Linked DNA regions of Homo sapiens: all the other regions are linked to region 3. Evidence: fine-mapped expression QTL. A gene starts in region 3. Each other region holds a variant in brackets. All regions are shown on one strand. Distances are between the middles of the regions.

Region 1 (10,900 bases), 150 kb before region 3:
GGAGTGTGTAGAGGGAAATTTATAGCACTAAATGCCCACAAGAGAAAGCAGGAAAGATCCAAAATTGACACCCTAACATCACAATTAAAAGAACTAGGAAAGCAAGAGCAAACACATTTAAAAGCTAGCAGAAGGCAAGAAATAACTAAAATCAGAGAAGAACTGAAGGAAATAGAGACCAAAAAAACCCTTCAAAAAATTAATGAATCCAGGAGCTGGTTTTGTGAAAGGATCAACAAAATTGATAGACCGCTAGCAAGACTAATAAAGAAAAAAAGAGAGAAGAATCAAATAGATGCAATAAAGAATGATAAAGGGGATATCACCACCGATCCCAAAGAAATACAAACTACCATCAGAGAATACTACAAACACCTCTACGCAAATAAACTAGAAAATCTAGAAGAAATGGATAAATTCCTCGACACATACACTATCCCCAGACTAAACTAGGAAGAAGCTGAATCTCTGAATAGACCAATAACAGGATCTGAAATTGTGGCAATAATCAATAGCTTACCAACCAAAAAGAGTCCAGGACCAGACGGATTCACAGCCAAATTCTACCAGAGGTACAAGGAGGAACTGGTACCATTCCTTCTGAAACTATTCCAATCAATAGAAAAAGAGGGAATCCTCCCTAACTCATTTTATGAGGCCAGCATCATCCTGATACCAAAGCCGGGCAGAGACACAGCCAAAAAAGAGAATTTTAGACCAAAATCCTTGATGAACATTGATGCAAAAATCCTCAATAAAATACTGGCAAACCGAATCCAGCAGCACATCAAAAAGCTTATCCACCACGATCAAGTGGGCTTCATCCCTGGGATGCAAAGCTGGTTCAATATACGCAAATCAATAAATGTAATCCAGCATATAAACAGAACCAAAGACAAAAACCACATGATTATCTCAATAGATGCAGAAAAGGCCTTTGACAAAATTCAACAACCCTTCATGCTAAAAACTCTTAATAAATTAGGTATTGATCGAACGTTATCTCAAAATAATAAGAGCTATCTATGACAAACCCACAGCCAATATCATACTGAATGGGCAAAAACTGGAAGCATTCCCTTTGAAAACTGGCACAAGACAGGGATGCCCTCTCTCACCACTCCTATTCAACATAGTGTTGGAAGTTCTGGCCAGGGCAATTAGGCAGGAGAAGGAAATAAAGGGTATTCAATTAGGAAAAGAGGAAGTCAAATTGTCCCTGTTTGCAGATGACATGATTGTATATCTAGAAAACCCCATTGTCTCAGCCCAAAATTTCCTTAAGCTGATAAGCAACTTCAGCAAAGTCTCAGGATACAAAATCGATGTACAAAAATCACAAGCATTCTTATACACCAATAACAGACAAACAGAGAGCCAAATCATGAGTGAACTCCCATTCACAACTGCTTCAAAGAGAATAAAATACTTAGGAATTCAACTTACAAGGGACGTGAAGGACCTCTTCAAGGAGAACTACAAACCACTGCTCAATGAAATAAAAGAGGATACAAACAAATGGAAGAACATTCCATGCTCATGGGTAGGAAGAATCAATATTGTGAAAATGGCCATACTGCTCAAGGTAATTTATAGATTCAATGCCATCCCCATCAAGCTACCAATGACTTTCTTCACAGAACTGGAAAAAATGATTTTAAAGTTCATATGGAACCAAAAAAGAGCCCGCATCGCCAAGTCAATCCTAAGCCAAAAGAACAAAGCTGGAGGCATCACACTACCTGACTTCAAACTATACTACAAGGCTACAGTAACCAAAACAGCATGGTACTGGCACCAAAAGAGAGATACAGATCAATGGGAACAGAACAGAGCCCTCAGAAATAATGCCGCATATCTACAACTATCTGATCTTTGACAAACCTGAGAAAAACAAGCAATGGGGAAAGGATTCCCTATTTAATAAATGGTGTTGGCAAAACTGGCTAGCCATATGTAGAAAGCTGAAACTGGATCCCTTCCTTACACCTTATACAAAAATTAATTCAAGATGGATTAAAGACTTAAATGTTAGACCTAAAACCATAAAAACCCTAGAAGAAAACCTAGGCATTACTATTCAGGACATAGGCATGGGCAAGGACTTCATGTCTAAAACACCAAAAGCAATGGCAACAAAAGCCAAAATTGACAAATGGGATCTAATTAAACTCAAGAGCTTCTGCACAGCTAAAGAAACTACCATCAGAGTGAACAGGCAACCTACAAAATGGGAGAAAATTTTTGCAACCTACTCATCTGACAAAGGGCTAATATCCAGAATCTACAATGAACTCAAACAAATTTACAAGAAAAAAACAAACAACCCCATCAAAAAGTGGGCGAAGGATATGAACAGACACTTCTCAAAAGAAGACATTTATGCAGCCAAAAGACACATGAAAAAATGCTCATCATCACTGGCCATCAGAGAAATGCAAATCAAAACCACAATGAGATACCATCTCACACCAGTTACAATGGCAATCATTAAAAAGTCAGGAAACAACAGGTGCTAGAGAGGATGTGGAGAAATAGGAACACTTTTACACTGTTGGTGGGACTGTAAACTAGTTCAACCATTGTGGAAGTCAGTGTGGCGATTCCTCAGGGATCTAGAACTAGAAATACCATTTGACCCAGCCATCCCATTACTGGGTATATACCCAAAGGACTATAAATCATGCTGCTATAAAGACACATGCACACATATGTTTACTGCGGCACTATTCACAATAGCAAAGACTTGGAACCAACCCAAATGTCCAACAATGATAGACTGGAGTAAGAAAATGTGGCACATATACACCATGGAATACTAGGCAGCCATAAAAAATGATGAGTTCATGTCCTTTGTAGGGACATGGATGAAATTGGAAATCATCATTCTCAGTAAAGTATCACAAGGACAAAAAACCAAACACCGCATGTTCTCACTCATAGATGGGAATTGAACAATGAGAACACGTGGACACAGGAAAGGGAACATCACACTCTGGGGACTGTTGTGGGGTGAGGGGAAGGGGGAGGGATAGCATTAGGAGATACACCTAATGCTAAATGACGAGTTAATGGGTGCAGCACACCAGCATGGCACATGTATACATATGTAACTAACCTGCACATTGCGCACATGTACCCTAAAACTTAAAGTATAATAATAAGAAGAAGAAGAAATGTTTGACCAGTTAATCCAATTTGATAGGAGTGTGAAAAGCACGATATCATGGTGGTTAGGAGGGTAGACTGTGAAAGTGAACTACATGGACTCAAATTCAGACTCTGTCACTTCCTGTCTGACTTAGACCAAGTGAATGAACCTCTCCGTTCCTCACTTGTTAATAAATGAGGATAATAAATAATACTTCCTCTTAGGCTGAGAACAATGCCTGGCATATTGCAAGCACCCAATAAAGATCAGTCTTTCTCACTTCCTCATTGTTTCTCCTTCAACTTCTTCATATCATCATCATCATCAGAGGGTGGTGGGCTGGCAAAGGCCCCTGGCAAAGGCCCCCTCCAGACTGTGGAAGGCCTTGAGAAGAAACCAATGTTTCAGGTTCACTTCTTTCAGCAGAGAACTAAGGCAAAGGATTCCAGGAGCTATCTTTGTTCATGTGGTGAGCTCACTGATCAAACTGTCTTCTTTGTACCTTTCCCAGTGTCAAACACAGCTTACTCAAAAATACCTACAGACAAAATACCACCTGCCTTATTCATACAACTGCTCTTGGGAGGCACCAAGAACAAGGATACAGTGGAAACTCTGGCTGCAACACCAGTTCCTGATCTATTTTGATCCCAGCCCTCTTGGGAATCTAAGTTATAGACCCTCACCCCAGAAAAATGTACATTGCAGGTTTCCAGATCCCTAGTGGAATCCCTAGTTTAATGGAGCCAAGGGAGAGTCCCCTTATAAGCATTAAGAAACAACGCTACCATCCTACTTCTTGGAGCCTACCAACCAAACATTATTAAAGAAATAGCAAGGATATGCACAAAGATTCCAGTACAGTGTTCTTTATAATAGCCCCAAAATGGGAACAATCTGAATGTTCATCTAATGGGGAATTATTAAATAAATTATGGTACATTTATACAAAAGAATGCCCTGCAGCCACTAAAACTTACAATGTATACTTATTATCTATAACTGAACAAAGGGAGAGGATGCAAACAGTCCCATTTCCATAAAAAATACACATATGAATAAAAAAGGTCTGGGCATATATACTCCAGGGTATTCACACTTTGTTGTGTGATGCAACTATAGGAGTATTTGCTTATCTTTTATTCCACAGTAAACATGTATTGCTTTGTATTAATTTTTTTAAAGGCTATATTTAAATTTTTAAGAACTCATGCTATATGACTGCCTCGAATATAAAACTGTTTTATGATAAGCTTGTTTCATAATTCAAGAGCCAGACCCCTTATATGAATCCAAGAAAGAGCTACCTCTGTGTTACATTTTAGTCCCCAAGAAAAGGAGCTGTGGTGAGGTTTCTGGGACTTTTATGCTTTTTGTAGGAGAAAATCAAGTTCTATGTTTGTGTTATCTGCTAAGTCTAAAATGCTTCGTCTGCCTGCAGAACCCACAAAGAATAAGTAGGCTCTCCTTGGGTGTGTCAAGGTAAATAACTAAAAAATAAACCAAGGGGAGTGGCTAGATGAAGGAAGGAGGGCAGCTGGTGCCAGAGGCACCCACTCTCAGCTCTCCACTTCCTAGGGCCTAGAGTGAGAGCCTTCAAGAAGAGGCCGACAGAAAATGACTTGGGCCTGGAAGATACGGCTTTATCATGAGGACCCAGATAGTTCTCCACTAATAAAATGAAAACTAGCTTATTTAGAATACCCTTAGCTACAAGGAAGTAGGTTTTCATAAAGCTGGGAAAAGTCAGGTACTCCTATATACCCTGGTCCTCAAAAGTCCTGGGAACCGGTATTAGCAAAACCAGTCTACAGCAGGTCTAAGCTGCTGGGCCCTTCGCAAAAGCTGGGGGAAAACATTCACTAGGCCCAGATGGGTAAACTATCCCATGTTCTATCCTGGAATTAAATGAACTATGTGGGCCATCATAAACCATCTATTTTGTACATATGAAGACAAGAGGAACAGAGTTAAATCCTGGTTCCGCCAAGTCAGTTGTGACTTTGAACAACAAACTCTTATTTGTTAAGTCTAAGTTCCTCACCTGAAAAACAGGCTGTTCTGAGGATTAAGCCCCAACTCACAGCAAGTACAAATACTAATAAGCACTCAGTACGTAAGAACCATGCACCCAGCACTGAGCCAAGCAAGGCTTCACATCCATAATTTAATTCTTACAAAGGCTCCACCAATTAGGTATTAGAATGCTAAGTTTACAGGTGAAAGAAGAAACTGAGGCAAGGAATTAAGTAAATTTCCCAAGGTACACAGCTTACGAGTGGGAAACCAGAGCTCTAATCTGGCCAGCCCAGCTCCAATGACTGCATTCTTCACTACTAGGCCCATTTATTTAAATATGTAAGGTTATTTCTCTATGCCTCAGTTCATCATCTATAAAACTGAACTAATACATTGTGCTTCCAAGGTCATTGTGAAGTTTAAATCAAATAACCTATATGATACCAACTATAATACAAGTAGCTCTAGTAGGAAAAGTTTTTTGTCCAGAGACCTGATTTAAAATCCCAGCTCTGCCATTCACTCCACAAATGGTCACAGATGAGTTGCTTACTCTCACTGGGCCACACTCTCCACAGCTGTAACACTAGATTCACTGACTCACTCACTCATTTATTCATTCTCTCAAAATATGTGTTACGTGTCCACCATACATCAAACGTTATCTATATCCTAGCACTACAGCAACAAACACAACAGACAAGATCCATGCACCCTTGTAGGGCTTACTTTCTACAGGGAAGGCAGAATAAAAAACATATAACATGCAAGATGGTTAAGATGGTTACGGGTAGTAAACACATAACATGCGAGATGGTTGTGGGTAGAACCGAGGAAAATAACACAGGGTAAGGGAAAAAGGGAATGTCAGTGATAGGCAGGGGTGCCTTGCTATTTCATAAAGAGCTGTCAAAGAGCACCTCGTTAATATGATGACATTTGAGACAAGGCCTGAAGGGATCAGGGACACCAGACAGAAGAGAAAGTGCAAAGCCCCTGAAGGAGGAGCTGGCCTGGGCATGCTAGAAAAACTGCAGGGTCAGTAGCTGGGGAGGGGAAGCAGGAGAGGGTGGGGCGGCAGAAGTAAGGAGAGAGTGCAGCCAGGGCGATGGTACAGGGCTTTGCAGGCCCTTATCTGGACTTTTACACTGAATGAAAAGGAAAGGCTTTGATTTGGGGGCAGAGATGGGACATGATCTGACTTACATTTTTAAAAGATCACTGATTATTGTGTGGAAAATGCACTACAGTGAGACAAGGATGGAAGCCCAGAGGCCAAACAGGAGAGGCCTGCAGCATCCAGGTGAGAGAAGAGAGGCGAGCTGAAGCGGTGGCAGCAATAATTGGTGGTGAGGACTGGTCAGGGATGGAAGACGTGCAGAAGGCGGGGCTGCACAGAGGCAGCCAGGGAGGGAGAGGAGAACTGAACTCTCAGTGGCATCGTCTGGAAGCCAAGTCAGCCAAGGAGGGAGGGATCAACACGTCAAATACTGCTGCAGTCTGAGCAAGATGAAGACTGAAAACTGATCCTTGGATTTGGCAAAGTGGAAGTTGTTAGTGTCAGGCAAACTGTTTCAGTGGAGGGGTTGAGATAACTCAGAGTCCAGTCCCAATGGGTTTAAGAGAGAAAGGGGAATGGAAAGCAATACTACTGGAGATAAGGGAAAAGGAGAAAAATAATGACTTCACACAGCAATTTAAAAGGATACAGTTTTGACTCTGGAATCATGCTAATGTTATACATATTCAAAAAATTAAATCAATAAAAATAGGGTAGAAAACTCTAAAATTGAATACAAATAAAAACAAATGAATCTAATTGTGTTTCAAATGACTAACCCAACAACAGCTGTACAAAGAATGAAACCAAACAACTTTTAAATTCAAGAACATACTATAATGTATTTTTAGCCTAAAAACAAAGAGAACTACTTTAATAAACAAATCTTAAACTCTTCCAGTGGGTTTGTTTTTCACAGTGGAAAGGGTGGAGTAATTCTGGAACTATGTGTATATATTACAGAACTGAGTAAATCAGCAGATATGGTGATGTTGTCAGAGCCAGGGTTCTTAGTGTTGGAGAAGGGAAGTAAAAATGTGGAAGCGGGAAAAACAGGAAAGAACCCAGTGAGTCTGGACTGGAATTAAAGGCACCATTGTGAAGTAATGATTTTTTTAAAAAATAAATTACACATTTACACACACACACACACACACACACACACACACGCCTGCTAAAGGGCCTAGACACAATGATACCCTCGTAGCAATGAACACACCTAGCACCAAATCTTGGTGGTTAAATATCATTCCTCACTAAAAGGAATCAAGGCTCTTGGAGAAATGGCTCATTCAGGGCAGAAGCAGTACAGGATGAGCATGGAAAATCTATTTTGTCCCAGAAAGTAAGGACGTACTCCCAAAAAGATGGAGACATGTCAAAAGAAACTGCCACTTACCAAATCTGGGACAATATAATATGAATGTCAGAATGGATAATAGTCCATTGAATAAAATAAGAATCTTTAAGCCCACACTGATCATAAACAAACAAGAAATATAGTAATAAAAGGAATTAATA[G/T]AGAATGCATTCTTCTAGTACATGCCACCTAATATAAATGAAGAAGGAATGTGATTAAAAAATGTTAGTGTTAGAAAAAAACTGTCATAGGAACATTTGACTCAGACAAGAATCATCAATATATGGTAAAACTCATGGTAGAAGTTTGAAGAGGAAGAGAATACTTACAGAATAACAAAGTATCTTCTACAAATTATTCATTACACAGGTTAATATAATTTACACTGGAGAAAACTGACAGACATTACCTTAAGGAAGTGATCAAAGTTAATATCACCAAAAACGGGATTAATATTGTGTGCCTCCTTAAGAAAACACCATAAGAACAAAATAATCTCTTATGCAGCATTCCTGCCAAAACTGCATAGCCAATCTAATCTAACCAATTTAATCTAATCATGAATTGAGTCTTGCGGAAAGAACAGATAATCCCAAAGCGAGGGGCTAGCCTGAACTATTGAAGTATGTTCACATCACGAAAAGAAGAAAGGGTGAGGAACTACTCCGGATTAAAGGAGACGAGAGACACATGACAACTAAATGTAACGTGGAGACTGGATCCCGGACCAGGATCAGGATCCAGAATAAACTGTCATAAAAGACATTATTGAATTAATTATAAAAATTCAAATATAGGCTGTATATTAGATAATAGTATATTAGACAACACCTTTTCTGATTGTGATAACAATACCATGGTTATGCACGAGAATTTCCTTGGTCTGAGGAACCACACCCTGAATTATCTAGGGAGAAAGGAACATCATAGCATCAATCCACTCTCATAGAGCTCAGAAAGATAATAATAGAGCGCGTGTGTGTACAGACAGGGAAAGATAAAACAAATGTGGCAAATGCTAACAACTGATGAAGCTGGGTGCACAGTAAATGGGAGTTCTTTGCTGTAGTCTCAAAAAAAAATTATTTTAAAAATTTTACCTAGCACATAGCAAAGGTTTCTTTCACCCTTCCTCTGGCCATCCTTAACTCTTCGATATACTTTTTAACTGATAAAAATTTTGCTTGGTTGACTGGATTTTTTGCTTGCCAACATTTAAAACACATGAGTTTTCACAAAAAAAAATAAATAAATAAAAAATCCCATCTTTTCTGGAAAATTTGTAAGATGCAAGAACTGGCAACTACGTGACCACTGCTGAGTGAGAGGCAGTGCCTTCTGGCTGGCTTCACTCATGTACCTCACCAGCCCGGCCCCTGAGGCGTCTAAACTGGACTCCTGGTTTGTAACAGTGCCGACCACAAGCCATGTGGAAGTGGTCACTGGGAGGAAGCAGCAGCCAGTGTGGTTCTGCTGTCACCTCATCAAGGCAGAGGGGTGAAAGATAACTAAGGCCAAGGAGTTAGCTCCTCCTGTGCCCCTCCAAGAAGTCCTGGGTCAATTACTGATGTCTTAAGACTCGCGTACCTCACCCTACCTACCGTTGAGAAATAGCTTTTCCAATTTCTCCAGCAGCTCAGCACATTGATTCAGCTGTTCCTGGAAACCCTCGGCCACACAGTAATCCACATCACTGGCCTGCAGCAACTCCTCAAATGCCTTAATCATGGTGTTCATGTGTTGACGGGAGATGACACAGATGCCATGGCCATCCTTAATCTGCTGCCGTTGAAGGGAGAGCTCCCTGGCTTGGGACTGAACTAATGAATCGTATCTGATAAAAGAGGGGAAAGAAAATACTTGGACCATTTTAGAATTGAATTTTTGTGACCTTAACACTAATTGGAAAAATGACAGAGTACAATTTTTAAAAGCCTGCAGCTGTACAAGTATATATACTTTTAGAAAAATTGAAACTGTACAAGGTCAGCTCTTCTTTGATTTCACACAGCCAACAAAGGCTGGAACAAAGATTCTTCTGCAACATTTTTAACCTTATAAAGCCCCCAATTAAAGTACAGATTGGCAAGAACTCAGGCAAACAATAAGTTTCCATACACTCTTCAAAAATACTATTCTGAATTGTAGAAACAAGTGCCCCAAGGGTCAGAGGATCTACCAAAAATTCTCATGAAGTGTGATAAAGAAAGTGTACCACAAAGAAAAAAAGACAGGACTCTCTCCTCCCGAACAAAACGTCACTGAATAATCATGATGCTAACTACCATTTACTGAGGGTCTAGGACCTGTCAGTAACTGAATTCAGTGCTTTATATGTTATCTGATCCTCTCAGTCTTCCAACAAATGTATAAATGTCCCCTTTTACAGAAGAATAAACTGACTGCAAAGCTAATTAAGTGGTAAAGATTTTGGATTCAAACACAATTCTCACTTTGAAGATCATTATGCAATATTACCTTTTTACCGTCATGTGCCACCTTTTCCTACGTGAGCCCATAAGAGAAAGACACTGAGAAGTAAACAGGTTAAGGGAAATGTGACTCATGTAAACTGGCCACAATAACCTTGCTCCAGAGAGTAGCTTGGCAAAGATGTTGACACTTCAGTTCAACATAATTTTCTCCTTCCTGGAAATGACAACACTACATGGGCTGGCAGTCACCTTCAACATAGAGTGTGCACATGCAGATTACATGATACCAGCATTAAAGGTGGGGGCCAGTATCATGTGAGTACTGGAGTAACATGGGTAAACATGGGTAACTCATGAGTAACATGAGTAAACATGGGTACTGGAGTGGGATGATGTGGGCTTGAACCCTGGCAATGGCTCTGACCAGCTCTGTGAATGTTCTCTGCCAAGTCACTGCAGCTACTTTGAGGCTCAGTTTCCCTACCTGTAATAACTAGTTTAAGAATACCTCCTTCTCAGGTGATTTTGAGGATTAGATAAGAAAAGTGCCTAACCAGGGGCCTGAGACAACAGCCTTTCAATAATTACAAGCTTCCTTCAATCTCACTGCTTGGGAAGTCTTGAAAAATTCATCCTGGCTCCTGACAATTCAGAACAATGTGTTTGACTCAAATTAGTGACAAATGAAGGTCAACTTTACTAATGATCCCATTTTTGCCATATCTCATGAAGCAAAACCGTATATATCTATGCCCATAAAGCATTATCTTCATGACCTAAGAATTCTTCTCTTTCAACACAAGCTTATTTCTCTAAGATGACCTTAAAGGGTAAAGATATGGAAAATATTTATATTCCTCCTACCTTGCCTAGAC
Region 2 (9,628 bases), 180 kb before region 3:
GAAACTAGAAGCCTTTTCCTGACAACCAGGAAAAGGCAAAATTGGACAAAACTCATTGAGGGTAAGGGGAAAGCACCTCGTGACCTCTGGTGGAAGTGCGGGATGGCATGGCCCAGTGAGAACGCCCTGGCAAGATCTACCAAACTGAGATGCGCTTAACTCTTTGCCCCAGCAATTCTACACGCTGGCATTTCCCCCAAGGAATAATAACATAAGCACAAGAAGATGCCTATGTACAAGGATGTTCGTCTCAGCATTGTTCATGGTAGGAAAAAATAACCTGATTTCAGTATAGATCTGGATAAATTATGGTACTTACATATAATACAATAATTTAGCAACTATTAAAAATGACGTTGTAGAGCTCTATGCATTGATATCAAAAAATGATCACAGTTAGTGACAAAAGAGCCCAGAACAACACGTCCTGTATAAAAGGCATTCCTGTTCCACAAAACTGAATATAAACGCCCACATCCATAGATGTGTATATTGAGATGTCATCAAAATGTTAACAGCAATTCTCTCCATGAGCTATGATTTCAAATTGCGTGATCTTTTTCTTTTACAAAAACTATAATGCTGATTTTAAAAACTTTTCAATGTTTAAATCTTCAAAAGATCATATAAAAGTATTACTAGGAAAGTATGCTCCATTAGAAGAAACTCTTCTGGTTTTCCAGAGTAAACTCTGGATGGGTGGCAAAACCAGAGTCCCCAGTGCTCTGAGGTGACATACATGCACGGCGGAGCCCTCTGAGCCAGTCTCCACCAAACCAGCTCCCAGGGGGAAGGACACTCCCTTTCTGTCAGAAAAGCACCGTGGCACAGGCCGCTCTCTGCTGCGCCGAAACACTTCTGCTTCCAACAGGAGAGCTGGTGAGTTGTCAGCTCACGAAGAGTCACTTTAGTTTGTTCCCAAACTTGTTTATGGTAGCTGTACTTGTAATCAAATTGCATAATTTAATTAAATATTAAGTAAGCCCATGAAATATGTGTATTAAAAGAGAGAACTGGTTGTATGAAAACTAACATATGCTTCAGGAAAGACTTGATAAAAGCAAGTCACTAAAAAACACATTTCTGGCAAATTAGGTGTGGGTGAGACAACTATAAAAGATGTGGGAGGAACACAGTCTAGAAGAATTCTATATTCAAATTGCTTTGCAAGTGTCTAAGTTTTCTCTTCATCTTAAAGAAACAGAAATTGGAAGTGACAGACATACATTATGGATGCAGTTTATGAAAGAAAGAAGATGTGAAACTCCAATCAGCAGACCCATATTCAAAAGAAAAGGCCCTGGCCCTACATCAAAAGAATGGCAAATGAATGTACATTTATCTGTTTTAAGTTAAACTAAAATGTTTAAGGTACATATCATTTTTGATTCCCTGACTTAACCTACTTTTAAGATTAACCAGTCATGTCAGGTACAAGGACTTTGACAGTTCTTCCCAAACAGATCCTAATTTTAAACATTAGGTTTGCTTTGATTCTTTTCCTTGGGGCTAAGAGCTCACAAAGACTTAGGTTCTGGTCATGGCTCCAGAGGCCACACATTCCAGGACAAAGTCTCTCTACAGTCAACGCCTTAGTCCCACATCTGTAAAATCGGAATAATCATCCCTGATCCAGCTATCACATTGCAGTAGAGTGAGACTCAAATGAGATAATGGAAGACAGTGGGAATGATCATTTCCAACTTGGCCTGGCTGACCCATTCCTTGTTCTAAAGTCAGCTCAGGTTTCACCTCTTCCAGGAAGTTGACCTGGCACTTCTTTTAGGATGGCTACTGCTCCTCTGGGTGCCCCGGGGCTCAGTGTCTCCCCATCACCGCCCATGGCACACTGGAGTGACTGGTCCTTTACTTGTTTGCTTCCTGTACTGACCACACACTCATTTCCTCCCTCTAACCACCAGTGTCTGGCGCAGAGTAGGTGCTGTGACACCATTTACCCACTCATGGTGGATTAATTTTCACTAGTGCTCTCCTAACATCCTGTATATATTCTATCCAGTACTTACAACAGGGAATTTTAATTGTTTACATGTCTGTTGTTCCCCTGGATTCAAATCTTCATTTTATAGGATGAATATTCCATGGTAGCAACAGCAGGGGCTCAAAGTACAGCTCCACCACTCCCCAGCTATATGACGCTGAAGCAAGTCACTTAATCTCTTGGAGTTTCCATTCCTACCTCTGGAAAAAGGGAAGAATCACAGCTAACTCCCTCAAGATTTCCGCAAGGGATCAAATGAGATGCTGGGTGTAAGCAGCATGCCCAGTGTCCGCAGGAGGTCACCAGAAGAACCCTTCCTGAGGGCCACAGAGCTGCAGTGCTGAAGCCACTCCCTCCCAGGAGGCCTCAGGCTTCCTCGTCAGTGTTCTGCCTGACTTCGGGGACAGGAATTTTTGCTTGTTTTCTTTTTATGGTGAAAAAAATCTCAAACATTTACGAAAGCAGAAAGAACTGGATAATGAACGCCCAAGTGCCCATCCAGCTTCAGCAATGATCAATTCATGGCCATACTTACCTCTACTACATTCCTGCCCATCTTCTCCCCAAGATGATTCTGAAACCAACCTTAGAATCCAATTGTATCATCTATAAAATATTTTACTAGATCTCTCTAGAAGATTTTTTTTTTTTAAATAAAGACAGCATCTTACTATGTTGCTCAGGCTGCTCTCAAACTTCTGGCCTCAGGTGATCCTCCCACCTTGGCCTCTGAAAGTGCTGGGATTACAGGCATGAGCCACCATCCCGGCCATAAAAACATTCTTAAAAAAAAAAAAAAAAAAAAAGAAAAAAGAAAAAAAAAAAAGCCCAACACAGTATCATTATGACACCTTAAAAAAAAAGGCAGTAATTCCTTAGTATCACCACATCCAGTCAGTGAGCACACTTCCCTGATTGCTTCATAATTTTCTTTTCTAAACAATTGGTTCAATTCAGGATGCAAATAAGATCCATGTTTTGCATTTGATTATCTCTTGAGTTTCTTTAAATCCAGTGGTTCTCAAACCTACCTAGAGGGCTACAAAAACAGACTGCTGGGGTGCACTCTCAGAGTTCCTGATTCAGCAGGTTTGGTGTGAGGCCTGAGAAGGTGAATTTTTGACAAGTTTCCAGGTGATGCAGATGCTGCAGGTCCAGGGCCCACACTTATGGGAACCACTGTAAATCCATAGGGTTCTCTCCCTCTTTCCCCACGCTGGATCCTTTCTTACTAGGATGAAATACGTTCTAGGCTCATACTGTACATCTCCTGCCCCAGACCTAGCAACAACCCATTTCTCCAAGGGAACCCTAGTTCCCTTTAGCGGGCAAAGGTATCTAGAAACCATAATTTGGGCATCAAGGGCACTCACTGGTGCTAGAACAGACATTGTTTCTAAAGCCTTGTATGTTGACAAAGTTCATAAAATTCTTTTAATGGATGATAATACATCACAAGTTCATTCTGATATGTGCTATTCAAATTTAGGATTACAGGGTTATTTCTTTGATTTCTTATCTCTTTTTCCTTACAGTAAAAAATCAGTTCCCAATAAAAGTATTTGCTTTATCTTATAATAGAAATATAATAATTCAGAATATGAATATCAATATTACTACTAAAAATATAACCATTAACAAGAGTTTAAATTTTTTTCTTGCCCTTAGAATACTTCTACTAGAAATGTGTGGTCAAATTACTATGCTTTAGTCACTGAAATGCTTCCTTTTTGTGTTGTTATGCCTACATTGCCATATACAGTAAGGTTTGTTTCATCTTGCCAAGAATTTTTAGGAATTGTTTTCTCATTTTGATTTTTTATAATCATGTAATGCATTTATATACTTGCTAAGTCAAATCTACAAAACAAGGTCTATTCAGAGAAATCTACCTTCTATCTGTTACTCCAATCTCTCCCCTTCCATTACTATATGTAGCCTGGTTTGTTATTGTTTATCCTCCATTTAAAAAAATTATTATAAACAAGTATGTGTGTACATTTGTACCCCTCCACACAACTGGTGCACATGATACACACTTTCCAGAGCAGTCCAGACTACATGGGATGGTATACTAAATGTAAAAGGCAATTAATAACACTCAAGAGAAAACCAGATAGTTCAAAAACCCCTGGGTTGTTGGTGAAAACTTGGAAATGGAAATCAGCATTACACACATTTCACACCAAGCAAAGGCACTGTATGAAACACAGCAGTGACAGAAAAGTGGCTAGAGGCAATTTAACACTACACAGGGGGTATGTACCCCAGCAACCACATCGGAGCATCTCAAAGGTCCTTTTTCTGGCACAATTCCATGACATCAGAGTGAGCATAATCAATTACTCAAGAAACCTTTGGAAGGAAAGGGGTACTCAGGAGCACCAACCACTCCTGGAATGATTTGCAAGTAGGGAAGAATCAATGTGGCTATAACTTTTTTTGTGTGTATATATATTTTATATGTAAGTGTATGAGCTGTATTTCTGTCTATGTAACAGTTACTACAATGTGCTAAGGATAAAAACATTGCATTAAGGGTCAACTGTTCAGTTCAGACATGTTTATGTTAAAATCATATGAGGCAGGCACTACTTTGGGTGTATAGAAAAAAAATCACTGGTTCATTCAAAAAATATAAATAAAACAGACACCATCCTCTGAAGGAAAATAGAGGAAGACAGGCATTAAACAAATATACAATTATAACTTGTTGAAAGGCTATGATGAAACAGAAGAGGATGCTATGATGGAGGAATCAGGGAGCCCTCTCTGACTCTGGGGTAATATTTAAGCTAAGACTTGAAAGGTGAGAAGGAGCCAGCCAGAAGCAGGACATGGGACACTCCAGGCAGTCAGGCCATCTGTGTCACCTAAGCCTAAGATGGAACAGGACCTGGTGGATTAGAAGAAGGGAAAGACCAATGTGGGGCTGGACCCCAGTGAGTCTCAGCCTTCCTCCCTGATACTCTGTCTCCCACCTGATACTGCCACCAGCTAAACGTGGGCCAAAAAAAGATTTTTCTATGGAATGAATAGTTATCAACTTCCCTGAGCTTAGTGTATCCAAACTTTGTCCCCAGGATCCCAAAAGTGAAATCTTAGAACAGGCTCATTAGAACCTTCAGAGCAGAGAGAGCTGCCCCACCTGCTACTTCATGGTCATGTTTGAGAGACCTGAGAGCTGTCAAAAGGGGGTTAACTAAATGAGATAATGACAAAAAATGTAAATTTCCCTTCTGCCTTCCTACTGGCCTTTGGCAAGAACAGATAGGTTAGATAAACAAAGGGTGAAATATCTATCACACCACCAAGCAGAGAGTTCTAACTCTTCCTTAACCTGCAGGTCCCTTCCTCCAGGGAGGTTTCTCTGATTAGCCAGAGTGGGCGTTCACCTTGTCATGACACCACATGCATCCCACACACAGAAATCAGAGGACAGCTTCTACTCTGCCTGACTCCTGGTTTGGAGCCTGTCATTCCTAAGTACTTAAAACAGATTTTGAACAAGGTCCACTCAAATATGATGATGAAAGCTGTCGATAGGAATCAGAAGGTCCAGAAAAAGGCACCTAAAATAAAAGAGATGATGAGTAGAAAAGAATGAGCTAGTCCATGAGGACAAATTAGGACTTAGAGCCTATAAAATAAAAGAATAAACATTGGGTTCCAATATTTATCCTTTCAAACAAGTTCTAACCTTGACTAAGTGCCTCAGCTCCCTGAGTCCTGGTTCCCTCATGTGTAGAATGCGGACGGGATTCTACTCAACAAAGACACGCTCAGACGGGTCATGGCTACAGGAGTGTGGGACGGATCAAGTAAGAACACAGTGAAGCCATGGCAAACGGTGCCATCTCCTCCCTAATACATACCCCAAATGGTGGGCACATCTGCTGTGGGCCCCTGCTTGGCATGGAGGAAACTGAGACACAGGCCCCAGTGGCATCCTTGAGCCTCTGAAACATGTGTCACCACCTACCTGCTCACAGTGAAGGGGGCACTGGCCATCCTCGGGGAGTGAGACTCTCCAGAGAAGCTTCAGCCGCCTGTAGGCCTCTTCCAGGGTCAGCTTGGCCGTGCTCACACTGCTCACAAACTTGCTCAGTGGTGCTGGGTGTGGACCCTACACGGGGGATATGAAGGCTGTTACGTGCAGTCTTGAAAAAGATTTTAGACAAGCAAGCCTTAACATGCAGTATAAATCTCCAGACTGTAGGGCTTCTGTTTCACACGCTGAGCGAAAGCCTGGTACCACATAACACCAATTTATTGTTCTTAAAGACTGGTGAATTGTAGATTATGAGAGAATTTCAGTGGTGATCTTAGCCCAATCAATAACCATGATTAATAACCACCATGGTTAATAACCACCAGCATTAACTACAGTTACTACTCCAAGTAAAGGGTCTGTGGGAGGGCCATTCTTACTGTTTGGCGACCCACAGAGACTCGCCCAGAGAAAATGACACCAACAGCAAGCAATAAATGGTTTGCCTTTACTGGTCCCTGTTAAATGGCCCTGCTGTAGTGAATATGATATCAGGGTCTTGTACTGCTGGCAGAGCAAACTCAAATTGGGCGGTATCAAGGGCACAAGAAAATTATGTATGTGACTCAGAAAAGGGGAAATACAAGCCCAGAAATTCGAGACCACCCTAGGCAACATAGTGAGACCCCCATCTCTACAAAAAAATAAAAAATTAGCTAGGTGTGGCAGTGCACACCTGTAGTCCTGGCTACTCAGGAAGCTGGGATGGGAGGATTGCTTAAGTCCAGGAGGTCAAGGCTGCAGTGTGCCATAATCATGCCATGTACCCCAGCCTGGACAACATGGCCAGACCCTGTCT[CA/C]AAAAAAAAAAAAAAAAAAAAAAGAGAGAAAAAAGACACATCCTTTTTAGATATCAAAGTAACAAAAAAATCATTATAAATGAAAATATCTGGGCTGGGTGCAGTGGCTCACGCCTTTATCCCAGCACTTTGGGAGGCCGAGGCAGTTGGATCACCTGAAGTCAGGAGTTCAAGACCAGCCTGCCCAGCATGGTGAAACCCCGTCTCTACTAAAAATACAAAAATCAGCCGGGCATGGTGGCAGGCGCCTGTAATCCCAGCTACTAAAGAGGCTGAGGGAGGAGAATCACTTGAGCCCAAGAGGAGGAGGCTGCAGTGAGCCAAGATCGCACCACTGAACTCCAGCCTGAGCAACAGAATGAGACTCCATCTCAAAAAAAAAAAATTTTATATATATACTGCCAGGCATGATAGCTGACGCCTGTAATCCCAACACTTTAGGAGGCCAAGGTGGGAGGATCATTTGAGCCCAGGAGTTCGAGGCCAGCCTGGGCAACAGAGTGAGACCCTGTCTCTAAAAAAAATTTTTTTTAAAAGCCAGGTGTGATGGCACACGCCTGTGGTCACAGCTACTTGGGAGGCTGAGGCAGGAGGATTGCTTGAGCCTAGGAGGTGGGGTCGAAGCTACAGTGAGCCATGATCGCGCCACTGCACTCCAGCCTGGGTGACAGAGCTAGATCCTGTCTCAAAATAAAAAAAACACAACAACAACAAAACCTCAACAAAAACAAAAATGTAGTGAGACAAACGTTCATGAACAGAGATAGAATTGTTTTGCAAAGTAATGGAGCAACAGTTATCATCAAGAGCCCTAAAAAGTTCACAACCTTTGAACTAGTAATTCCACTTCATAATGGGCGACAGCCAGGTGGATGGGCAGATGAATGGACAGACACACCAGGGTGCAGATGGAGAGAAGAATGGATGAGAGACCAGATGTACAGAGGCCGTCATGGGAACAAGACAGCAGAGCCCATGGAGCAGTTGCAGGAACACAAGGCACAAACCCCACCAAACACAGCCACCACCAATAGTTCCCCACACTGGACCTGACCTCTGAGCTCTCTGAGGCCACACTTCCTGGTCCCTCTTCTCAGGGTCCTAATGAGGACAACTGCGCCATTTGACTCCCCTCCCCCTTCCACCGACACTCCCAGGGAGCAGCTTGTGCCCCCCAGCTCTGTGGTCAGGTTACCTTTGTTCCCAGCTCTTGACTTGTGGAGCTGGGAGCCTCTTGGGTTTGAATGTCCATTTCAGCAAGGAGCCTCTGTCCCTGGCTGATCTGTTTGAGCAGGGCCTCATAGTCCTCAATCAGGCCCAGGACATGGCGGCCATTCTTGCTGGCCCACAGGTGGTGGCCAGTGACCAGGCGGGACACACACGGAGTGCTAGTTGCCGAACTGCCACTGTCGCAGGAGAGGGAGTCCGTGTCATTCCCAGAGAGTGGAGGAGTCTCTGAAACTGTAAAATGAGAAGTAGGATGTAAAATCTGTTTCAGGTAACACTCTGCGTTCAAGACGCTTATGATGTTGAAGCTAGCTAGGAGGGCTAGAAGAGGCCCTCGTGCCCAAATGCCACCCAACACAAGCCCAGAGGGGAAAAGAGGCACGCTCCTGGACCTCTGTATATTACCCCACACTGGGCTTATGAGTCATCTTGTAGGAGAGGCTCAAGTCAACTCAACCAACACTTATCAACCACCCACTCGGCAGAAGACCCCAGATTCACAAGGATGACTCAAGCTGGTGCCTGCATTCCAGTAGCCCACAGTCTGATCAGAACACAGACACTGCAGAAGGTGCAACAGCAGAGTGATGAAGGGCCAGAGCCAGAAAAAACAATTATCTGTGCAGGGAGGGAGAGAACAGGGAAGGCTTCTGAGAAGGAGCAGCATTTGAACTGGATTGAGCAAGTAGCAAGAATTACACGAATGATGAGTCATTCTGACCAAGGACAGCAGCAAAGGCATGTCACAGAGAAATGTGTATTCATGATGAGTCTTGAGGAAACGGGACTTCTACCGGCAAAGAGTGGGACAAAGGGGGTCTAAAAGTCACAGTGAGAGGAAAGTGTGGGCCTGTCTGCAGGATGGTGACCCCTGTGTGGCTACACCAGGTTAAGGGATAAGGCTGGACGGACCCACTGGAGCTGGATCCTGGAGGGCCTTGAAAGCCTCACAAAGGTGGTCACAATTTTAATCTAAGGCAAGAGGGACCCAATGATGTTCTAACCTTGGTAACACCTAGGAGTGGATTAACTGGCTTGAAGGAGAAGATCACCAGCTGGGGATGCTGAGAACTTGAAATCCCAAATCCTTACCAAATACCCTCCTGAGTTGGGACCAGGGACCCCCCTTTTCTGCAAGTTAAAAAGTCTTACTGTCACATCCAATGCTCCCACAGTTACCTGGACTTCAGCTTTGTACCTGATTTTGGTGTCACTGCCTGGGAGGAATCAAACAGATCAAATGAATTATCACTTTCCATGGGATATTTGTCACCATCTACAAAATGCAAAACACGAGAACTGTTAGTTTCACTGTTGTCAGCATTCAAGAGAGAACTGAAAGAGAATACAGTCAAGCCCCTCACATTCACTTATCCATACACACACAGCATTCCTTCAAATCTTCACTGGGCCTCTGTCCTGCCAAGCCCACCTTTGTGGGACACCAGGGAGACAGAGTGACCAGGCCCAGTCCATTCCCTAGAAAAACTCTCAGCAGAAAAGTAAATAAGCAATTTTATTTTAGTGTGATCAAGGACAAGGGAGGGA
Region 3 (10,900 bases):
CCTGGTCAACCTGGTGAAACCCCGTCTCTACCAAAAATACAAAAATTAGCCAGGCGTAGTGGGGCATGCCTGTAGTCCCGGCCACTAAGTGGCTGAACCATGAGAATTGCTTGAACTCTGGAGGCGGAGGTTGCAGTGAGCCAAGATCACTCCACTGCACTCCAGCCTGGGCAACAAAGCGAGACCCTGTCTCAAAAAAAAAAAAAAAAAATCATAGAGACAGAAAGTAGAATGGTGATTGTCAGAGGCTGGGAGAAGGGGGGAATAGGGAGTTACTGTTTTAACAGGGACACAGTTTCTGTTTTGCAAGATGGAGAGTTACGAAGATAGATAGTGGTGACCGTTGAGCAATAATACAAATATATTTAATACAACTGAACCATGCTTTAAAATGGTTAAGATGGAATGTATGCAGTATCTACGTCCTGCAAAGGCAGGGAGATGAGGGAAAGGAGAATATTTGCTGATCTGTTGAGTAGTTACTCTGGGTCAGACACTGAGCTAAACTTTTTAAGATTCATTTTAATCCTTATGCCAACCCTAGGCTTTATACCAACCCCTTTTACAGATGATAAACACTGAGGCTCACAGATGATGAGTGACTTGCCCCAGATCAAGGGGTTGTTAAGTAGCAGAACTGGGATTAAAACCCAGCTAGGCCTGGGACCCCAAAACCCAAGTGTCTGGCCAAAAAGCACTGAAATAAGAATGGCTATCTGAGAGAATAATAATGGAAGTTATGATAACAGCAATAAGCAGCATTAAAAGTATAAAGCAGCAGACTGTGAAGAGCAGATTTATATTTAAAAAATAGTTCTCACGCCGGGCGCGGTGGCTCACGCCTGTAATCCCAGAACTTTGGGAGGCCAAGGAGAGCAGATCATGAGATCAGGAGATGGAGACCATCCTGGCCAACATGGTGAAATCCCGTCTCTACTAAAATACAAAAATTAGCCACGCACGGTGGTGCACTCCTGTAATCCCAGCTACTCCGGAGGCTCAGGCAGGAGAATTGCTTGAACCCGGGAGGCGGAGGTTGAAGTGAGCCGAGATCGCGCCACTGCACTCCAGCCTGGTCACAAAGCAAGACTCCGTCTCAAAAAAATAAATAAATAAAAAATAGTTTTCAAATTGTAGTATAAAAAACTATTAGAGGTGCAAAGGACAATACAAGAGAGAAGCCATACTCCCAATATATTGGGGCAGTGGATGTAAAATAGATAGAAAAGGGCATGATGAAATATCACAGGACCCAATTAGACAGGAACTGCAAAGCATCTTAGTCTGTGCCTCATACATGAAGGTTCTCAATAAACAGAAAAACCATTTGTCCAGGTTTACCCAAGATAGGCCCTCTTTATGTCTGCTGCCCGGGCATAAATATTAATTATTTTCACTTTCCTTTTTTTTTTTTTTAAAGATAGAGTCTCACTTTGTCACCCAGGCTACAGTGCAGTGGCATGAACACAGCTCACTGCAGCATCAACCTTCCGGGCTCATGCAATCCTCCTGCCTCAGCCTCCCGAGCGGCTGGGACTACAAGTGCATGCCACCACGCCTGGCTAATCTTTGTAGTTTTTGTAGAGATAGGATTTCACCATGTTGCCCAGGCTGATCTCACACTCCTGAGCTCAAGAAATCGGCCCACCTCGGCCTCCCCAAGGGCTAGGATTACACAGGTGAGCCACCGCACCTGGCTCTTTTCACTCTTAAGTGTCCCAGTTAGCACAATAAATAACATGGTCACCCTTTCAATTAGGATCTGTTGACTAAAAGCAGCAGCTTGTCCATAGTAGAGCTGGATAAACAGTGCAGGTTCTCCGTCAGGGCTCTCCTCCTCTTCCCTCTACTCACTCTCCAACCAGGAGTCTAGGACAACCACAGGGGCCAGCCGTGGAGCAGAGTTGCGCTCTGTTAGGCCTTCCTACCAGACCCCAGCTCCACCAGCAATGGGGACTCCCACAGTCTCTTGGGGCAGGTCCATGGGAGGCCACTCTTGGCCATTATTCCCTGATTCATATCACCTTTGATGACAGTAGTAATAATGACACTAATGGCAACACAAGATCATTTTTTAAGCACTGATTATGTGGCAGGCACTACACCTGCCAAGCAAATGGCTCGACAGGCATCACCTCTTTTAATCCTCACCCCAACTCTGTTGGGTGGATATTACTAGCCCATTTTACAGATGGGAAAGCCGGTGAAATCACTTTACCAAGGTCACACAGCTAGTCAGTTTACAGGGCTGGATTTGAATCCAGTTTTGTCCAACTCTAGCCAAGGTTCTTAATCATTGCACTCCATTGCCTCCTGGGTGGCCACTATGTGACCCAAAAAGCAAAGTCTGGGCATACCGGCTACACTCTCTCCATAATGAAAACAAACTCTCAAACCAGAAGGAACCATCAGGTGCCCTCAAGGTCCCTGTTCTCCACCAATCCCCACTAACGGGATACTCCAAGTGGCCCCACCCTCGTCCTACTCTTTCAGAAAACTCCTTACCTGTTCTTCACACGCTCTACAAAGTACATGGCGCAATGCTACTGGCAATTGTGGTGCAGGTCGCGGCTCCCAGCCCTCCAGAGTGTCAGGTGGTGGGCCCCCCAGAGACCCTCTCCGAAGGAACCCACCCCACACACTGCCCCTGGCCAGACACCCTCAAGAGCAAACCCCAAGGCCGCGTTAGAACGAAATCCCACCAGCTGGAACCCCGGCCCGGTTACCACGACCACCAATGCCCCGGCCGCACCTGCAGCCGCTGAGCGTCCCAGGGACGGTGACGTCCTCTTCCAACACCAAGTCCATCATGGCTACAGAGGTGGCGACAGCGTTGGTGTCTGTGGCGGCGGCGCCACTAGTACCCCCCGCGATAGCGACCCGCCGGGCTCCCCAGGTCCCCGCCCCCTCCACCCCAGCTCTTGTTCAGACTCTGGCGGCGCCGCTGGAATTCAAACCACAGACGCCGCCATCTTTCCCGGCGCTTCTTCCTACGGAAACGAGGCGGGGTCACGGAGGCGCACGCAGTGAAGCCGACCGGCTGGCGCCAGAGGACGGGCAGGGAAGCGGGGATAGGTGCCATCTTAACTAAGGGCAAAGCATCCGTGCTTAAGCCAAGCAAAAATAAGAGACAAAAAAAGGCCGGCTGCCATTTTTTGTGAGGGCACTTAGGGAGAGGCGAGGGCGGGTGCCATCTTTGTTGAGGGCCAAAGCGGGCCCTAGTCCGTTAATTTACGCGGGAGATGGAAATGAATACAGCCACTCAGGAATCCTCAAAGTTCCTAACCTCGTGTTTGCTTTTCTAGAATAATGACCCCAAAACTTTGGGATTTGACCTTAAGTTGAAACTCAGATAACTGAGTGCTGCCTTGCTTTGGAAAAATACTACGTGCGGAATCTCAAGGCAAACAGTAATTTGCAGACTTAGTTTGAAGCAAATAACTCATTCCCATGAGCCAGTGGTCAACAGCACTCCCACTCCAGTCTCTCACCTATTGGTCTTTTATTACCATTAGGACTCAAAGGCACCTGTGGTCAGAAAACTGAGGGCCAGCAAGAGGAAAGGACTCTCCCAAAGTAATTAAGTATTGACAATGTCTTTCAACTGGAGTGGGGGTCTGCAGCTCCTGCCAACTAGATGAGGGCTCTCTGCATAACCCTGGCTGCCTTTCTTTTTTTTTTTTTTTGAAATGGTGCCTCTGTCGCCAGGCTGGAGTGCAGTGGCCCGATCTCAGCTCACTGCAACCTTCACCTTCTGGGTTTAAGCGATTCTTCTGCCTCGGCCTTGCGCCACCACACCCGGGTAATTTTTGTATGTTTAGTAGAGACGGGGTTTCACCATGTTGGCCAGGATGGTCTCAATCTCCTGACCTCGTGATCTGCCCACCCCGGCCTTCCAAACTGCTGGGATTACAGGCGTGAGCCACAGCACCGGCCCCTTGGCTGCCTTTCTTAAAGCACATAGCAATCACCAAACACTTAGATAATCTTGGCAGAGCTTAAGCAATGAAATTAACCTTCCCCTCCTCAACTCAGTGTTGCTCCTTCCTCTGCAGGCCCTTGTGAGAGAGCCCGATGAAAATAACTTGAAATGGTTGGTGAGTGGATAGATAGTGACTTTCCCAGTAATCTTGAACAATTCCCCTTTCACCCTGTTTCCTCATTCTTTTTTTTTTTTTTTTAAATAGAGACAGGGTCTCACTATGTTGCCCAGGCTGGTCTTGAACTCCTGGCCTCAAGCAATCCTCCCACCTTGGCCTCCCAAAGTGCTGGGGTTATAGGCCTGAGCCACTGCACCAGGCCCTCATTCTTCAGTTAAGTAATTAACCAATTATTGATACTTTTCAAAAGAAGCCTTCCCTAGTCATTTAATCTAAATCAAGCCACTTCTTGTATTCCTAGCAATGCAAATTATTCCTTTGTGGCACTTACCATATTTTGCAATTTGTGTGTGTGTGTGTGTGTGTAAAATCATTTTTTAAATGTCTTTCCTTGCACTAGACTGGAAGCTGCATGGGGCAGGGACTATATTCTGAATTGTTCACTGCTATATCCTCAACACCTAGCACTATGTCTGCCACTCAGCAGCTATTTGAAAATGTATGTTAAATGAATGAGTGATTCAATCAATCAGTCTGGAAATAAGGCCAATACCTATCCTGCAAGGTTTTTGTGAGAATAATCAGAGATACTTTTAGGACCTCTGTCAATAGTAATTCTGTGTATCCCAGATTCATATTCATTCTCTCTCTTTCTCTCTCTCTCTCTGTCTCTCTCTCAGCTTTAGTTAGGCTTCCAAAGCCCGCGATTATTTGCCTGTCCCCCTTCTTTCTCTAGATCTTCAACCACACCCACAATTAGCAATGATAAAAGCATGAAAAAGAGGGAAAGCTTAGCACACCTGGTGCACTGCCTCAGGAACGGGGCAGTCCTTGAAGCCCAGGAACCAATACTCCTTGCCAGTAAGTTCAACCCATGAGATAGGTGTGTCCAAAAGCAGGGAAGTTGGGGTGTCAGGATTCCCACCCTGGCTCTGCCACCAACTCTGTGATCTTTGGCAGATCACCTTTTTTTTTTTTTTTGAGATGGAGTTTTGCTCTTGTTGCCCAGGCTGGAGTGCAATGGCACGATCTCGGTTCACCACAACCTCTGCCTCCCGGGTTCAAGCGATTCTCCTGCCTCAGCCTCCCAAGTGGCTGGAATTATAGGCATGCACTGCCACGTCCGGCTAGTTTTGTATTTTTAGTAGAGGCAGGGTTTGTCCATCTTGGTCAGGTTGGTCTCGAACTCCTGACCTCAGGTGATCCACCCACCTCAGCCTCCCAAAGTGCTGGGATTACAGGCATGAGCCACCCCACCCGGCCTGGCCAATCACTTCTCTGTGGACCTCAGCTTCTACATCTGTTAAATGAGAGGGCTGAACCTCTCAGGGTCTCTCAGGATGTTACAGCTCTGGAGGTGATTTCTACATTTCTTTTTTTTTTTTTTTTTAAGATGGAGTCTTGCTCTGTTGCCCAGGCTGGAATACAGTGACGCGATCTCAGCTCACTGCAACCTCCTGGATTCAAGCGATTCTCCCACCTCAGCCTCCCAAGTAGCTGGGATTACAGGCACCTGCCACCACGCCCAGCTAATTTTCGTATTTTTAGTAGAGACGGGGTTTCACCATGTTGGCCAGGCTGGCCTCGAACTCCTGACCTCAGGTGATCCACCCACCTCGGCCTCCCAAAGTGCTGGGATTACAGGTGTGAGCCACTGTGCCTGGCTTCTGTGTTTATTTCAAAGCTACTAACATACAACCAACTCTCTCCTGGGGAGGGAGGCTAACACTTCCCACATGAAAGAACTAACTTTGCATCTCCAGCCAATGAAAACTCTTGAGAATATAAACAAGGAAGAGAACTTATACATTTTGAGCATGTCTTATACGTCACTTGTTCCAGGCATATTACATGCACCACCTCATTTAACCCTCCCAACAACCTTCTGCAGGAGGCGCTACTATCTGACTTACAATTGAGAAGACTGAGGCTGCAAAAGGTAAAAACTACTTACTGAAGGTCCTACAGCTGGTAAGTGCCAGAGCTGGAATTGAGACCAGGGCCCTTTGAATTCCAACACCTTGATTGTTTCAGGCAACCTGTCATCCCCATTTGGGTTTCTCTTTTGCTTTAGAATTTAGTACTAAGAGGCAAGGTCTACATCCAGACGACAGTATTTAAGGGTTGTGTTCACCAGACTCTACTCCTTGGGAAACTGCTTCAAAGTGGCTAAGAGGTGAATCTTAGTGTGGGCAGTTTACAGAACTGGAAGTCTGGACACCTGGATTCTGACTCTGGAAACTCCTCCCATTTATCCTGTGACCTGGGGTTCCTTCCCCTTGCTACACTTCGATTTTCATGTGTAAAATGGGGAGGACAATGCTGAGTTCACATGGTTGCCTCATCTAATTGAATACCTTAGACATTATTGAAGATGAAAGAACCTGTGAGGAGTTGGGTTGTTTTTTTAACTTATTTAATTTTTTTTTTGGACACAGGGTCTTGCTTTGTCAACCAGGCTGGAGTACAATAAGAGTGATCATAGCTCACTGCAGCCTCCACCTTCCAGGCTCAGGTGATCCTCCCACCTCAGCCTCCCGAGTAGCTGGGACCACAAGCAGGTGCCACCATGCCGGACTAATTTGTTTATTTTTAGTAGAGATGGGGTCTTGGTATGTTGCCCAGGCTGGTCTCGAACTCTTGGGCTCAAATGATCCTCCCACCTCAGCGTCAGAAAGTACTGGGGTTATAGACATGAGCCATCACGCCCAGCCTAGGATCTCTCATTATGATTAGTCCATTGCCTTGTTCAGCATGACCATGTCCCTGGGTTGCGTGCTAAACCCTTTAGTGAACCTAGAAACTGAAAATAGAATCAATTGCACAAAGGAAAGGCTATTTGGAAGTTGGTTTTCCTGCTACTGTAGTGGTTTCATGTTCAGAGACAGAGGCCTTTGTCCTGTCTCTGTCTCACCATGATCTTTCTGCCAAACCTAGAGGTGACGTCACTACCACCAGCTGTTTGGGCTATCTGGGGCTATCTCCTTGACAACAGCCACCCAACCACAAAGCTGGCATTATTATTTCCTCAGACAAGGTCATATCAAATGGCTGGGAGGAAGTAGCTTGCAGTCAGATGTTTTTCATTTGGGTAGAACCCTCCTGAAGCTTTAACAGATCAAGACATTTGCACTGCCATTACTAACAGCAAAAATAACTTTTTATAGGATCAATATATACGCAATGCTACTACTTTGCACTCTTCCGTTTTATCCTCATGATGCTGTGAAGTGAATTGGGTTGATCGCCCTACTCTACAGAAGAAGAAACTAAAGGCTCAGAGAGGGGAAGAGATTTCCCAAAGGTCACACTTTTTTTTCTTTCCTTCTTTCTTAGTTTTTTATTTAGAAATAATTTCAAACTTAGAAAAAAGTTGCAAAAATAGTACAAAGAATTTCTAAAATATTAACATCTTCCACAACCATAGCACAATTGTCAAAAATAAGAAATTACATTGATACAATATGACTTATTACAGATCTTATTTAAATTTAATCTTTTCCCATTAATTCCCTTTTGCTGGTCCAGGATCCAATCCAATATTCCACACTGCATTTACTTGTTACATCTCCTTACTCTCCTCCAGTCTCTGACAGTTCTGTCTTTCATGGCAATGACACGCTTTGTTTTTGTTTTTGTTTTTGTTTTTGAGACACAGTCTCACTCTGTCACCCAGGCTGGGGTCCAGTGGCACTGCAACCTCCGCCTCCCGGGTTCAAGCAATTCTCCTGCCTCAGCCTCCCAAGTAGCTGGGACTACAGGCGCACACAACCACACCCAGCTAATTTTTGTAATTTTAGTAGAGACAGGGTTTCACCATGTTGGCCAGGATGGTCTCAATCTCTTGACCTCGTGATCTGCCCACCTCGGCCTCCCAAAGTGCTGGGATTACAGGCATGAGCCACTGCGCCTGGCCCAAGCTGCCCTTCTAAACCATGGCCGTGCTGAGATTCAAACCCATGCCTGTCTGGTCCCACAGTTGGCAGTATTTCTGGCAGACACATCTGCCCCCTTGCTCCCAAGACCTCTTACCAACCAACCCTCAACACCAGCAGTCCTTATTAGGACCAGTTCTCAATTAGTACCCACTGCCTTCTCTGAAGAGCAGGGTGATCAAGTCAGTGATGCCTTCTGGGCCCAACATGTAGCCCCAGGCTGTGCACATAGTAGATGCTCAATGCCAGTTTGTCAAATTAACTCCAAGTCCTGACTTTTTCTCAAGATGGAAAGTGGAATGAGAAATACCAAATATCAAAGGAATAGAATATAGATTATTGGACTAGGGATGGTAACACACATCAACATAATATAAGGTTAATACCAATCTCCCAGTTCAACTCTCTGGGCCTATTTTCTTATCTGTATGCTGAGTGCATTACACTACAACATTGAGGCCCCTTCAGCTGTGATGTTCCATGAATAACTAAAATTAGCTACCATATATTAAGCTCTTTCTATGTGCCAGGTACTGTGTTATATACTTTGCATTCAATCCTCACAATAACCTTATGAAACAAGAACTGATTATGCTCCAACTTTATGGTTGACAAAACTGAAGTACAAAGAGAAGAAAGAGTTGCCTGGCCATTGAAGGGGATCAAAATATGCCATCCCAACATATGCCCCTTTTGCATAAGGATTATTTTGAGCTGAAGACAATTGAGAATCAACAGATGCAGAAAGAATTTTCTGCCTTCTCCTTTTCTACCCTGAAGCAGGACATAAATTCCCCTTTGTGAACATGTGCCTCCTCCCTGTCTACCATTAGTTTCCCCCATATATTCCCTAATCACTTCCCCATGATTTATCAGCCTTGAAGCTCAACACTCCCTTCTTTTGCTATAATGGGATAAAAGCCCTTGAGCCTAACCACTTATTTGAGTTTCACTTCTTTTCTATGAACTCTTGTGCACATAACTATTAATAAAAATTAATATGCCTTTTCTCCTGTTAATCTGTCTTTTGTCCATTTAATACACAGAACCCTCAGGTACTGAACCAGACAGGTTAAAGGAAAGTTTTGCCCCGACACCATCCAAGTAGCTCAGTTGTGAAGACAGGATTTGAACCCAGAATTCATCCAAAAGCCCATGTTCTTAACCACTAGGCCGTAGTGCCTTTCACTGAATACCTGTCCTCAAGAAGCTGGTGAAAATGCACATACATAATTATGAAACAAAGCAAAACATTTTAAATACTTTGTTGGTATAAGAAAGATAACAGGGCTGGGCACGGTGGCTCACGCCTGTAATCCCAGCACTTTGGGAGGCCGAGGCAGGTGGATCACAAGGTCAGGAGATCGAGACCATCCTGGCCAACGTGGAGAAACCCCGTCTCTACTAAAATACAAAAAAAATTAGCCGGGTGTGGTGACACGCACCTGTAGTCCCAGCTACTCAGGAGGCTGAGGTAGGGGAATCGCTTGAACCTGGGAGGTGGAGGTTGCAGTGAGCAGAGATCGTGCCACTGCACTCCAGCCTCGTGACAGAGCAGGACTCCATCTCAAAAAAAAAAAAAAAAAGAAAAGAAAAAGAAAAAGAACAGTGAGATTCTAGGATCACAGAAGGGATTGAGTCATTCTGATTGAGCAGTTGGGGAAGGCTGTTTTACAAGTAAGACCTATGCCCTGCAAAAGCAGGATAAAAACCTGTACATACTATTATGTGCACTAGCTCCTCATGTTTGAAGGCCAACAGAGATCAAATAAAATCCCTACTTGATGCAACTATTTAAAAAGCCCATGTCACATTCTTCATCCCTTGATTCTACCTCACAACAGCTCTAAGACAAGTTTGTTATCATTCTTCTACTGATAAGGAAATTGAGACTCAGAGACATGAACCGATTTTCCCAAAGTCACACAGCAAGCTAGTGACAGAGAGGAGCTTGGACCTCCATTTCCTGATTCACAAAAGGTGGTTCCTGAGCTTTTTGAAACTTGCAGGAGCCAGAGATATGTCCCACGGCAAGATCTCCTACCTAAATTGATCATCCTCAGTACGATGGCCACATCCCCACCCACTTAAATCCAGGGTCTGGCTAACAGAGATCTAAAAGCTGCTGGAAAAATTATCCTAGGATGCCAGAGAGTGCTTTCAAGCACCCTCTCCAGCTGCACATTGAATATGTAAAGCAGCAATAGCTCTAAGCAGAGAAGGGTAATTGAATTAATCAACTGTCTGGACATTTTGCAGATTAAAAGAAGTACTTAATGTCTTGTGACTTGCAGGAGGGGACGGTAAACTTTGCATCTCCCTTAAATGCAGTGAATTCACATTGAGAGCACAGAGCAGGAACTAGAGAAGGATGAACACAACACTTGTGGCAGCTGCAGTGCCTCCTTCCTTAAAGGGATAAATGACAGTCCCCTTTTCCTTGCATGTGTCCTCCTGTGTGTGTGACATGCCACCAAGTACACTGCACAGGCTGTGCCCTACACAAGCACATCCACCCAAAGGAGGAGTGGAGGCTGAAATTGAGTCCGTGCTGTGCTGGACAAGCTGTGAGTTTATCCCAAAGCAGGGATGCCTTTTTTCTAATTCACACAAAAGAACTATACATGCCAGTGACTCTTAGAGTCTAAAATATGCTTCCTTCCCCTTCTCTGTGAGTCCTAGGGTCCTCTGAACAACAGTTTAAGAGAAAGTTTTGGGACCCAGTTTGGGTAGATGTCCCACCTCTGGACTCCCAGCATACCCTGAGCTTATCATCATTGTGACATTTAGCTCTGTAATTGTTAACTTGGCTGCCACAGTGTGAACTCCTTGAGGCCAGGAGAGGCAATGTCAATATTTTATTTT

Alleles and levels. Positions count from the first base shown, and alleles are read on the strand shown. Sizes are in standard deviations (SD) of each study's normalised expression. Not every link is listed here.
For the expression in skeletal muscle of the gene that starts at base 3,000 in region 3, C is the high allele of the variant in region 2 and CA is the other (large effect, 1.0 SD a copy in FUSION).

Evidence for each region. PIP is the estimated chance that this variant, and not a neighbour inherited with it, causes the effect. A credible set is the group of variants that fine-mapping cannot tell apart.
Region 1: its variant is the best candidate, but not a certain one, in a credible set for the expression of CDK5RAP2 in blood mononuclear cells (TOPMed, PIP 0.73).
Region 2: its variant is the best candidate, but not a certain one, in a credible set for the expression of CDK5RAP2 in skeletal muscle (FUSION, PIP 0.58).

What each region holds. Positions count from the first base shown.
Region 1 is chr9:120,428,104-120,439,003 of GRCh38, forward strand. CDK5RAP2 (CDK5 regulatory subunit associated protein 2) reads right to left here. Exons shown (of 38, transcript NM_018249.6): 25 at 9,192-9,424. Among named protein-coding and RNA genes, the nearest start is that of CDK5RAP2, 150 kb to the right of the region's middle. The variant G/T (reference allele first, on the strand shown) is at 7,752.
Region 2 is chr9:120,394,758-120,404,385 of GRCh38, forward strand. CDK5RAP2 (CDK5 regulatory subunit associated protein 2) reads right to left here. Exons shown (of 38, transcript NM_018249.6): 33 at 9,279-9,356; 34 at 8,049-8,314; 35 at 5,985-6,128. Among named protein-coding and RNA genes, the nearest start is that of MIR147A, 150 kb to the left of the region's middle. RefSeq lists an enhancer at 7,645-8,613. The variant CA/C (reference allele first, on the strand shown) is at 6,853.
Region 3 is chr9:120,577,168-120,588,067 of GRCh38, forward strand. It overlaps CDK5RAP2 (CDK5 regulatory subunit associated protein 2), which reads right to left and starts at 3,000. Exons shown (of 38, transcript NM_018249.6): 1 at 2,753-3,000. The coding sequence starts at 2,811. RefSeq lists enhancers at 2,672-3,234, 3,088-3,217.